Linked DNA regions of Homo sapiens: regions 2 and 3 are each reported to be linked to region 1. The links are microRNA targets in miRTarBase. Many come from high-throughput screens and were not tested one by one. Region 1 holds a microRNA gene; each other region holds the end of a gene's coding sequence.

What was found. Region 1 holds the annotated microRNA hsa-miR-1245b-5p (UAGGCCUUUAGAUCACUUAAA, at 1,088-1,108, shown strand). A microRNA usually pairs through its seed, bases 2 to 8, with sites in the 3' UTR of a target mRNA and lowers its output. Matches are read on the target gene's strand: a 7mer-m8 pairs with bases 2 to 8, a 7mer-A1 pairs with bases 2 to 7 and ends in A, and an 8mer does both.
Region 2: miRTarBase lists CDV3 as a target of hsa-miR-1245b-5p. Seed matches in the 3' UTR shown: 7mer-m8 at 2,965-2,971.
Region 3: miRTarBase lists RAD54L2 as a target of hsa-miR-1245b-5p. Seed matches in the 3' UTR shown: 7mer-A1 at 3,270-3,276.

The regions. Positions count from the first base shown.
Region 1 is chr2:188,974,999-188,979,240 of GRCh38, reverse strand. MIR1245B (microRNA 1245b) reads left to right here and starts at 1,080; the gene lies at 1,080-1,148. The region is part of intron 1 of COL3A1 (collagen type III alpha 1 chain); the gene reads right to left. It overlaps MIR1245A (microRNA 1245a), which reads right to left and starts at 1,149; the gene lies at 1,080-1,149. All of the region lies in intron 1 of LOC105373791 (a long non-coding RNA gene), which reads left to right.
Region 2 is chr3:133,587,591-133,591,832 of GRCh38, reverse strand. CDV3 (CDV3 homolog) reads right to left here. Exons shown (of 5, transcript NM_017548.5): 5 at 1,572-3,937. The coding sequence ends at 3,787. Among named protein-coding and RNA genes, the nearest start is that of CDV3, 16 kb to the right of the region's middle.
Region 3 is chr3:51,663,179-51,667,374 of GRCh38, forward strand. RAD54L2 (RAD54 like 2) reads left to right here. Exons shown (of 23, transcript NM_015106.4): 23 at 1-4,196. The coding sequence ends at 242. Among named protein-coding and RNA genes, the nearest start is that of TEX264, 6.0 kb to the right of the region's middle. RefSeq lists an enhancer at 1-9.

The DNA of each region.
Region 1 (4,242 bases):
CTCTGTCATCCTCCACACAAAATACTATAGAAAAACAGTTTCAGAAAAATATATGCCATTTTACTGAAGCAGTACTTTCTTAATACTAGAATTCAAGGGAAGTTTAACTTTTAATAATTTCTGGATCTTTTCTCTTTGATGTTTACATCTTTTGGGCATTTTGACTCGTCCTCTTTCAACGTTTCATTTTGTTCATTAAGACTACATTTTAAACAGCAGTGCTTGACCTCAGTCATGGAAAAAAACAAGGGTTTTATTAGTTAATCTGAAAGGAATCCACTTCTGCTGTGTTTTCATTAGACACAGACTGAAACTCTGGTGGTTAATGTAACTCCCCCAACTGCAGTTCACAAATGATTTATGTAAGAATAGCTATCTCATTTTTTCCGTTGTCATCTTGACATGAAACAGGCAAAGTTTCCCCTTTGAAAAGTCTGGAGAGTTTTTTTTTACACTATATGATCTTTTTTTTTTTTTTTTTTTTGAGTGTGGAAACAATGGGATTGAGCTTTTATCTTAGGGAAAACTTTTACAAGAAACAGTTCACTGAGAGGGTTCCAGAAAGTTATTGTAGACCTGGAAACTTTACAACTGTTCCTCATGTCCAGCAAAAGCAATAACATCTTTCATCTTTAAAGCTTTAATTCTTTAAGCAATCTACTTTAATCACTTCAAGGCGGTGATATCATTAGATGTTACAAAATTAAAGAGCTGGGCTACATAATTTTTGGAACTCTGCACCAAAGAAGCCATTCACAATGGAAACTGTGGAGTTTCGGTAGATGGCACTCTTTTCTCTGAGTGACAACTCAAGGTCCAGCATGTGACCGTAGATGTAGAACAGGGGCTTTCCTGAGGAGCTGTCCTTTAGCCTCAACTATAATCCTGGTAAACTCACAGCCAATCATTCTTGATTTTTAAAAAGAAGCCTGTAGATAAGACATCAATCCAGGAATCTGAAGTAGTTAAGAGGCATTTAATCACAGTCTTTCCTTCTTTCCCAGAATTGTTCCAGTGGATTTGCTTTCTTTTCTTGTAATGCTGAAATGTTTAATTCCAGAATTTAATAAAAATACCTTTTTATATGTAGGCCTTTAGATCACTTAAAGAGTATTCAACATCAGATGATCTAAAGGCCTATACATAAATAGGTAGTTTTGAAAATCCAAATTTTTCAAGGCTCTGTTATTACCTGAGCATTTTTCTTTCCCTAGAAAAAAAGCTCAGGTAAGTAAATACAAGGTATCATGGATGAAAAACACAAAGTGTTATAATACTTTATTTACTCACACAGAACTGGTGATAATTTCTTTTAAAATGATAAGATCCTGAGCTTCTGGGGTTTAAAAAAATTAACGTACTACTCTCTATAAAATTGAATATTAAACAGAAAAATACCTATTCTTTTTTCACCTTTAGAAATGCATTATTAGTTCATGTACTTTCTAGGACGATATATAATTTTTTTAGTATCTCCTTTCAATGACAAATAGTTACAAAATTAAGAAAATTCAAATATCTGATTTTAATGTGTATTCTATAATTATCTAAGACTGAACAGAATATTGGTCCTAGCCTTGACTCCGTCATTTTCTAGTTTTGTAATCTCAAATAAAGCACTGATCCATGTTAGGTGACTGACACTGAGATATGTGAGCAACTATGCATTCTCTCCCTTTAAAAGTGCAATTGTTCCTAAATGTATGTAACCTTTTCCTGTTAGTTCAGTGTGTTTAATTGTAGGGACAAACACAAACCAGAAAACTTGAATGTTACCTGAGCAAGTTACAAATTCCCTCTTAAAGCATAATGAAAAAAATATACTCTCATGACGTCTAATAAGAAACTGATTCTCTGAGTCCATTTACAGTTTTAAAATTCTAAAACAACTAGAGGCCTACAGTTTATTTTACTGGAATTATCACTGTAGCAAAATATAGAAACTCAAACATTAGTACACATTTAATTAAAATAAAGTTTCTGTTTCTGCCCTAATGGAGCAGTATTACTTAGTAACAGCTGTCTATAATCTATCTAACAATTAAGCAGTGAATAAAATACTTATGTCAAATAAGGACTACATCAGAGACATGAAAAATGTATTTAAACAATAGTCATATGTAGAATTTTTAAGTGGCCGTAACATTTAAGCTAATTTCCAAAAAGACTCTGAATATTGTTACCATTGTGTTTTCGTGTCAGTATATGTGTTTGCAATATTTATCCGTAACATACTAATTTCCTTAGGAGAGCAGTGTTAACATTTAAAATTCACGCATATGAATTTTTTAAAGCTCATTATAAACTACCAAAGCCAGCTACATAACATTAATATTGGCATTCGTTATGTAAATGGTAACCTGGCTTGTCAGCCACTAGGTGACGCATCTTTGTACTTAAAACTTGGCATGTTTATAATCTACAGGAAATATAAAACAGACTATGTTTCTCCATTGGTGGATTAAAACACATGAATTAAATACAATGTTCACAAATTTGTAAGACGACCAAAATTCTTTTTGAGGACTTGTTTGTATCCAGAAAATGCCTGTGAGTGAACTAGAAGTGAGTGTTCATTAGAGCTGTGCCGTCTCTGAAGTTATGAGGGCATATATAAGAAACCCCACCCCAGAACTTTATGACAGCTCTCAGTGTGCTGTATATTCAGATACCTCCTGTAACTTTTCCAAAGCTTATCTAATAGCAGAATTTCCTTGTAAAACCCACAGGGAACATAAGATGTACTGTCTTAAGTCACTTCAACTTTACTTTTACTCATGACAAAAAAAATAGGCTGAACAGTTCTCTTTCAACTCTTTTTGAGCTTAAGAACACACAAACACATATCAGCAAAATTTTATACTTATTGATTATTTTTTGCATCTAAAGAGAAAGAGGGAAATAAACAGAACTTAATGTGATGTCAAGGTACTGTAAGTGGCAAACACCCCCCCACTAAAGTTGGATTGGGAAGAAAAATAGCCACAGTGCTTATAAAAAGCTTGCAACCACGAGGCAACTACAAATATGTTGCAATTTTTTGAGCTAAAACCCCTAAGTTTGTAGTCTTTTCAATAAATGGTTGGTGGGGGATAGTAGTCATTTGGTATCCTAAAAAAGGACTGTGAGTTGTAGCATCTCCTGGGAAGAGCAGGATAGGGAGGAAAAGGGGAGAGGAATGAGAAAGGAAGAAGGATTGAGAGTTCAGGGGAAAGAAAGGGTGAGGAGGCAAGGAGAGAGAGAACTAAAAAAAAGAAATGGAGGCATAAGGAGGCCACATGGGGAGTAGGGAGGGAGTAACAGGCAGGGAAGACAGAGGAGGAGAGAGGAGTAGATATGGGCTTGCCTAGGAAGGGGTGGGGTGATGAGTGAAGAGAAGTCTAAAGGAGCCAAAAGGGGTGGAGAGAGATAAGGAGGAGGGCAAAGCGAAGGAGAGGAGGGGTAAGGAGGAGAGGAAATTAAGGGAACAAGGAAAATGGGTGTTTCTTTTCTTTTGTGTCCATGGGCTGAATATAACTGAAGACATTTCATTGTATATCTACCCCTCCCCTCATACACACATTTACATGTATTAGCTATGAGGACAACAAATACATTTGATATTACAAACAAAAACCAAATTTTCATGCAGTGTCCTTTGCAAAATCTATATGTTTAAATGTAACCATGTTTAGTTATGTGCAATAAAAATTGTCTAATAATTTCTCCTAGCTATCTTTACATTTAGCACTTAAATATTTATTTCTATGGAAGTTTGTATTCCAATTTGTTCAGCATTTTCATGACTATGGTAAATAAAAGAATATTTTCACATAAATAATGAGACAAATGTGTTTTTAGGGGAAATTAGAATATGAAAAACATTACATGCAATTATTAGAAAATATAGCAAAACAGCTTTCTGAAGTCAAACAGTACTAGTATCTTTACCTTGTTTGCAGCAAAGTCAAACCTCCTGTTGAAACATTTTAAAAAATATTTTCTTCATTAATGCGAATGTGGTTAAAACGTAGAATATGTGGAAAATATTAGTCCCTTAATATCAAGCTACTAGAAAAGATGAATTAATCAATCATTCTTGAAACAAAATAAAAACAGGAATAATAAAATATTTTAGCAGTTTGATCCCTTTGAAGAATGTTTATAGGTATCTTGTAGCCATTTTACAGAAATATATTCAATGATTCTGATAATGCGTAGAATCTTCCTTTAGACTGTTCTTAATCCATGATATTTGAAAGG
Region 2 (4,242 bases), not on the chromosome of region 1:
AGGCTGAGGCAGGAGAATCACTTGAATCCGGGAGGCGGAGGGTGCATTGAGCTGACAATGTGCCACTGCACTCCAGCCTGGGTGACAGCAAGACTGTCTCAAAAAAAAAAAAAAAAAAAAAACAGAAAAAAGAAACTAGAGACAATACAATAGTGGCTGCCTAGGACTGAGGAATTTGGGAGGAAAGAAGAAAATGATGACTAATAACAATAGAATTTCTTTTTGGGGTGATGAAAATGTTCAAGAATTTTAAGAGTGGTGATGGTTGCATAACTTTGAGAATATAAGAAATTCTTAAATTGTACACTTCAAAAGGTGACTTTTGGCCAGGTGTAGTGGCTCCCAAAGTGGCTGTAAAACATTCCAGCACTTTGGGACGCAGAGGAGGACTGCTTGAGACCAGGAAGCTTGAGAACAGCCTGGGCAACATAGCAAGACCCCATCTCTTAAAAAACAAAATAGTGCTTGGTAGCACACACATTAATCCCAGCTACTCAGCAGGCTGAAGCGGGAGGATTCCTTGATCCCAGGAGTTAAAGGCTGCAGGGGACTATGATTGCGCCACTGCACTCCAGCACAAGACCCTGTCTCTTTTTTTCTTTTTGAAAAGAGTGACTTTTATCTAAAAAGTTAAAACTATAGAAGAAATTAAAGCAGGGAAGACTGATAGAGTGTGAGTTTGTGTGTGTGTTCTATCTTAAATAAGGTTGTCAAAAAAAAAAAAGATCTCAATCAAGCACAAAGAATAATCAAATAGTAAATTGTTAACATTACATATTTAAACTCCACTACCAAAATGACTGAAATATACTTTTGCTAATTTAGAAATCGAGGGACTATAATCCAAACTAAATCCTGAAATTTAAAATTACTGTTTTTGAGAATTGTAAGATTAATCGAACAAAGCCTTAAATCCTTAGTCTATATAAAGATTTTAGATTCCTTTGCCATAGTTTAAGGTAACAAAATTTAATACAGCAACAAGGACAAATGTGTATTTCAAGTTTTCCAAAAATATTTGTCACAGCTTTGCAGCCACTTTCATGCGTGTTGTATTTTTTAAATTTTCTATTTCTTTTTTTACTGTCTTTGGTTTGCCTAAATCCTCATCGGTCTTTTTTATGCTTGAGTACTCTGTAAACACTTCTGAAACAGAAAGTACACTCCTGGCCAGGCCCGGTGGCTCACGCCTGTAATCCCAGCACTTTGGGAGGTCGAGGCAGGTGCAACACGAGGTCAGGAGTTCAAGACCAGCCTGGCCAACATGGTGAAACCCCGTCTCTACTAAAAATACAAAAGTTAGCTGGGTGTGGTGGTGCACGCCTGTAATCCCAGCTATTCAGGAGGCTGAGGCAGGAGAATCGCTTGAACCAGGGAGGCGGAGGTTGCAGTGAGCCAAGATCACATCACTGCACTCCAGCCTGGGCGACAGAGCAACTGTCTCAAAAAAAAAAAAAAGTACACCCCTGAGTTTAGAGCATCTTCACCTTCCCACAGCAAGAGAGGTGTGACCTCAACTCACCATTTTCAAAGACAGAATAAGGCTTTAAAATAACCATTACAGTCCAAAATCCATATATTTACTTTTTATTGAATTTGTTAATGTTACAGAATTCTTGCACTGCCAAACCATGCCTGAGAATTCAAACAAATGGTACAATGGACAGCCTCATCCACCCATCATACAGTATATTAAAACTTGATTCATTTATATTTTGATATTTTCACAATCTTTTAAAAAGTTATAACAAGAGTTGTAATTTAAATCTGCTGCAGGTCTTCAGATTTCGAGTACAATATGCCTTTACATAACACCTCCACTTACTCATCTGTTCATTCTTCAGTAACATAACCCCCAACAAAATTTTGTTGGGAAAAAATGCAGGGAAAATGCACAGTTCAACGATGAAGAGATTTTTTTAAGGTTTTTCATTCCCAAATAAAAGTCTTCAGTTTACCAAGAATCCCATTTCTGATTTAATCATTCAACCTTCCCTTGGCTGGCTCAGTTACTCACCCAAATATATTAGAAGGCAGGCATCCTGCCTGCCACCTCAAATGTCAACATTGCCCAGATGCGAGTGGCAGGTCCCGTCAGGAGATACTGTAACCCTCCTCGGAGTCCAATTCCTGCACGGACACTTTCGTCAAGACTAAACTCCTATCTGAAAACGCTCCCACGTCAAAATAGTTTTACTCACCCACTTGCTTCACTCTTGCCAGTAGCAAGTCTGCAACTCATGCATTTGGCAAAGGGATTTATTATAGAGAAACCCGGACTCTGCATCAAATGATGACATTACCACTTTCACATATTTCTATTGAACCAGATACAAAACTAGGAAACTGCCAGACCATCTTGTTAGGTGGACACTCTTCTGTAATCCTGGGTAGCTTCCTCAAGTCCCTTTAAATGACCCAAAACTATTAATAGGTATTTTAAGCAATAATTATTAAAAACAGAAGTGCTACATCACCTGTCTTTCGCCCTGACTCTCCAAATGAACATAAAGACACACCAAAAGGCTGGTAACAGAGCTAGCTGGGACAATCACTGCATCTATAGAACAGCCAATACCTTGAAAAACTAGGCACAAGTACATGAGGAATTCTTATCAAAGATCATGCACAATCCATGCCACTTAAATGGGTTTTAGCTGAGGTTTTGCTCATGTTACTCTGAATTTCTAAGGACAGATCAGTGACCCTCTTAGCCTGAGCAGAAAGCATATTCTTCCCACTGCAGTTTCCTACACAATTTAGTCCTGATTAGATGAGGCATTATAGCAGCACCTGAAGTAGAGCCTCCAGAATCCACTGCCCTTTTCATCAAAGGCTATTTGGTTCCACCCTCAGGATTGGCATACTCACGAGACATTTCACAATCCTAATGCATACTTTAGGTTACTTAATTAACCAAGCAATATGCTCTGTCAAAGAACTTATTTCAAGTCAAAGCAAAAAAGGCCTTAATGCAGAACAAAAACAAAACAAAAAAGCACTATCCAAATAAAAAAATTACCAAAAAAAAAAAACCCCCAAGATTATTCTCTCCCTTCCCCTTCCCCCACTTGGTGGACCCCAGTTTGGTTGAATTTATTTTGTGGTTACCTCAGAATACAATTAGTTTAAATTACAAATCACAGCCCTACACAGATGATCTGAACACATCAGTTCTTTTCAGCAGTGTGTTCCAGGAAGTCTAATATAACAACAGCCTACTACAGAGAGTATTCCTTAAGGGTAGGGCACAGGACAGGTTAATTAAGGTCACTTAAATCTTCATCTTTTACAGCAGATCAGAACCCAGATGGCTGACTTTTTATGCAGGATTTCTGATAAGAATCCAGTAGAGCTGGTTGCAAGGTTCACATCGACACTTAATAGTTGTAATCTTCTTATCCAGAAGTTGTGATCCACATGAAGTCCACAATGAGTGCAGCAAATCTGAGGTAGTCAACCCTTATGAAGGCTCAGTATCTGAACATAAAAAGATTTTGAAATGACCACTGGCTGCAGGTTTTGGTTTTTTGTATTTGCAGAGTAAATATGAAAGAACACTGTTGAAACTAGTTCACACATTTATGTAACAATGAAAATTCCCCTAAATCCAATATGCATAGAGCAGTCGTGACACTTTAACTTCCATAGTGCAATAGGGCCGGTCATGAAATCGAGTGGTCTGCATCGGTGTCTGTAGATCCAGCAGAGATCAGATGATGAATGGCTGTTGGTGGTGGTTAGCTGCAGTCTAGTTACCTCAGAAGGGTTAGCAAAGCCCATTCCTTAATTGTATTGTGAGTGGCTGCTTTTCTGATTTTCAAGCACAGCATATTGGTTGTCTAGCTGAAGTTTAAGGGCCTGGTTTTTTGAAACCTCATCCCTACCTCTATTTTTGTGTCTTACTACTTCAAAGCTCTTCTCCATTTCTTTATCCCTAAGGGAAAAGAAATGTAATCAGTAAATATTTCTTCTTCACTAGGGTTTTTGAAAATATTCGTCCTTGAATTTAAAAAAAAGCCACCCCTTAGAAGAATCCTGGGGAGGGGTAGGAGTGGAGGCATATAGAAAATCCTTATCAAACCATTTTAAGGCTTCAATTCAAACAGAAAACACAGAACGCTGTATTGAAGCTCTAGGGTCCTATCTTCTACTGAACAGTATTAACTGTGACCCTATTTCAGGACAAACTTGAAGAAAACTGTTAAAAGCTGTGTAATGACATTCCTCCTAAGACTCTTA
Region 3 (4,196 bases), not on the chromosome of region 1:
AGCCACTCCTGTCCGAGCCGAGGATGTTTGCGCCTTTTCCTTCCCCTGTCTTGCCCAGCAACCTTTCGCGGGGCATGTCTATCTATCCAGGCTACATGTCCCCACATGCAGGCTACCCAGCTGGTGGCCTCCTACGGTCCCAGGTGCCTCCATTTGACTCTCATGAGGTTGCCGAGGTTGGGTTCAGCTCCAATGATGATGAGGATAAAGACGATGATGTGATAGAGGTCACTGGGAAATAGCTAGGGAGCCCCTCCCCACCTCACTTGGGGCCCCCAGCAGGTTGCCCACCAAGCTGAAAGGCAGTGATTTAGACCTTTTGAGAATAGGACACTTGGCAGGAGGGAAAAGGAAGAGGACAAAGGAGGGTGGTTGGCCAAAGTGGCAGAGCTCTGTTGCTGTTTAACAAAAGAGGCAAAAAAAAAAAAAAAAAAAAAAAAGTCCAACACAGCAGCAATAGCGGGAAATCAGGGACCCAAAACAGGGATGGAGGGGCAGTGCAGCCTCTTTTCCTTCCTGCCTTGCTTATGCTGTCTGCTTGCTTGCTCGCCCATCTGAGTGTAGAAGCGCACATCCCATTTCTGTCTTTGGGAACATTCTTTCCCAAGAGAGCTGCCTTACTAGGTGACTTAGCTTGGCCTGGGGAGGGGAGTGAAGGAAGGGAGAATGAGTGAGAGAAGGAGGGTGGGTAGGGGGAGCAGACTGTGATCCCATGTGAAGTGGGGTCTTTTTAGGGGGTGGGAAGGAAGCTGACCAGGTATGTGTGTTTGTGAGTGTGTGTGTGTATGTTTATTTTGTATGTGTATGTATGGAACAGAGCAGGGGTGAAGGTGGGAGGGGAGGGAGGGAAGAACTAAGAGGGAAACTGAAAAATGAATTTATCTTTCTTTAAATGGAAGTCAGTTTGGTGGTTCATGGCACCTAGTGTGAACATCAGGGTGAGCCCAGAAGAGCCATGGAAATAACAAGTTTCCTTCGGGATGGGTGAAGAGAAGGCCCAGCTAACTCAAGTCCCTGGTATTCAGAGCCACATTTGTGTGAGAATTTGGGGAAATTCATGAGAGAAAATGGGCATTACCAATCTATGTCTCTTAACCCCGGTGGCTATCTCTGAGCAGCTCTCCCTTTCCAGCTTGGAAGGTTGTCTGTGTGCAGAGGCTGGGAGGGAGAAGCACTGCAGTACGTGAATGAAAGGTCGCAGAGTTGTGGCTGGAAAATACATTTTTCACCAGGGTAGAACTGAGCCCCCAGCTGCCTATCCTGGTAGTCTTTTCTGTTCCTTTCCTTCCCCTTTAGAGAGCTCCATGTTAATTTATTTCTTATGGGCAATTATTTATTACTTGGACTTTTCATGTGTCTTGTTTATTTGGGGGTGGGGGGAGGTTAGGGGTAAGGAGGGTAGGTGATAGAAAGGGAAGTTTTAAGATATCCCAGACCCTATAGCCACTGGTGAAAAACAATCCTGGATGGATGGTAAATTGACCAGGGGAAGAGTTAGGTTTGACCAAGGTTTGGATTAAACAACTATATTTTTGAGAGATGGCTTTTCAGGAAGATCAGGGAATCCTGAGACTGGATAGTTAGTGGAGGGTGGGACTCATTCCACAGAAATCGAAAGTTGTGATCATGGAGTTTGCAATTGGGAAGTAAGAGACCCCAGATTTGGAGCTGTGTCCTCCTGGGATGATGTTAGATGTTGGCTCTCTATGCTGAATAGTGAAGCTGTGGATAGGCGGTTGCTGGGTTGAGGGACTGTTGATTTCATGTTCGAAAATATCTTCAGGTGGTCCATGTAGGCCTGGTGTCTGCTGCCTCCATCTTTGAAGGAACATGGAGGAGCCCTTTCTCTGTAGGAGCCCTAAGTCTGGGTTTTATCTTAAAAGAACACACCAGTCATTCTGGGTCTCCCCTTATTGCCATTGCCAGGGGAGGGTCGTCTAGTCCTTAAGCATAAACACTGGCTGTCTTCCTACTGGTGTCCCCGCCCCCTCTGTATCCCCCACCCCAACACTTTGCCAGACAGTTCTTTATGATGAACAAACTTTGGCTTTAGAGCTTTACCACTTACCCATGGCTCCCTCCTTACTGGGCAGGTGGTGTACCTGCCTCTTCCCAGCCCAGAAGGCAGCTTAGTCAGGTCATCCCAGTAGTAGCTCCTACAGCTCTTCTGACCAGCCCATTTCCATCTTTGGAGGGCCTTAGCAGACTCTGGGGTATTGTCCTCAGAGAAGAGACAAGGAGATGATGGATGGGGTGCATGTGTATATGTGTGTTTGTCTGCTGTCCAATAACACCAAAAGTGGAACTTAAGAAGCTTTGTGTTTTCATAAGCACCCTGCCAGACACTTAACTCTTCTACTCATGGAAGCCTTAGATCTACAATTTAGCTATGCAAATTATTTTAATAATTTAAAAATAGCAGTTCCAACCAGTGCTTTCTCTTTCAGATGCATCCCAAGAATGGATGGTGAAGGGACTCAGTTGGAGTGAGCTCTCAGGTTGAGGCTGGTGCAGTAGGAGTGAGCTAGACTGAATCTCCAATTTATGGGACACACTCAGAACCTGGGTTACACTGATGCCTCTCAGGCCCTGGAGCACTGGGATCCCAGAGATGCATGTGTGCATGTGTATGTCTGTGTGTGTGTGTTGTCGGGAGAAGGGGGTAGTATTTCTGTGTTCACTTCTAGGAAATCACTGTACTAGCCTCCAAGAATCCGGAAACCTTCCCAGCCGGGAACTGAAACCATTCCCTGGAGGGATGGGCTTGGCTTTTGAAGTTGACAGAAAGTAAATGGGTATTCTGAGAGGCAGCACATGCCTACTGTCTATCCAGTGTTCCAGGGACTGGGTCTTGCTTCTACTCAGCAGAGGCCATCATTCTGGGAGGCTGACCTGACTAGAGAAGGCTTTCTTTTATATGTGCAGTTTCTATTGTGTAGAGGGGTTGGGGGTGGGATCATGGGAAATTGGAGTGCTACCAGGTCCATGGTTTTTGCTTTTTTTTTTTTTTTTTTTTTTTTTTTTTTTTTTTAAAGAAAATAACCTGAAAACACTTCTGACTTTTCCACTGTCTCTTTATATGTGCTGATAGGCAAATGTGCATGCACACCAAACATAAGCATGTTTGTGAGGGAAGCAGGAAGTATCTCAGAGCCTAAGAACCATGTTTTATAGTTTCTTTGATCATAAACACTTGGTGGTGTCTTCCACCCATTATCCAGGCCTGAGGGGGGCAGGGTGGCTGGTGATAAGAGGGAGGGCAGAAAATCAGGCCTAGGCGTTTTCCCTTACCATTGTCTTCCATGGAATGTTTTCAAGGGCCTCTCAAGCCCCATTCATCTGGTTTAGCCAAGTTCTCAGCCTGGGGAACACAGTACTACTTAATGATTGAGGTTTACCATTTATAGTGATGCTTGATTTCCTTTTCTTAATATATTTGTAGATAAAAATTGAACAGGGACAAAGTAGCTATTTAAGAAAGGAAGTGAACCATGTTGGGTCATATCATTTTCTTTAGATTGGATATCTATGAAGTCCACACCCCTTTGAGTTATGCTTTTTAGGCATCTATCTCATCATCTCCTGATTTAAGGATAATTCTGTCTGGTCCTTGGAGCTCTCTTCCCTAGGAATTAGTGTGTGGAGTCTCTATATGCTTGTGATCCTTGGAGCTCTCTTCCCTAGGAATTAGTGTGTGGAGTCTCTATATGCTTGTGATTCACAACTAAATATGAAATTTCTCAATTCAGGAGCAGGAAGCAAAGTGCTGGGGTACAGTTTTGCAGATTGGTTGAAACACTTAGCCAAACTTAAGTGGCCTGGGTAGGACCATCACTCCCAAAGTTGTCAGCAGAGAAGGGCCCTCTGTGTGAGTCTATTCAAACCTGGCATTGCTCTGAAATTGAGTCCTCATCCCATGGGGAAGGTCTTCTGGGGGCTTTACATTCCTTGTTACTAGTGTTCTGGATATTACCTTCTGCTTCCCACTTCCTTTTTTTTTTTTTTGAGACAGAGTCTTGCTCTGTCACCCAGGCTTGAGTGCAATGGTGTGATCTTGGCTCCGTGCAACCTCCACTCCCGGTTTCAAGCGATCCTCCTGCCTCAGCCTCCCAAGTAGCTGGGATTACAGGTGCACACCACCATGCCCAGCTAATTTGTATATTTTTTAGTAGAGACGGGGTTTCACCACGTTGGCC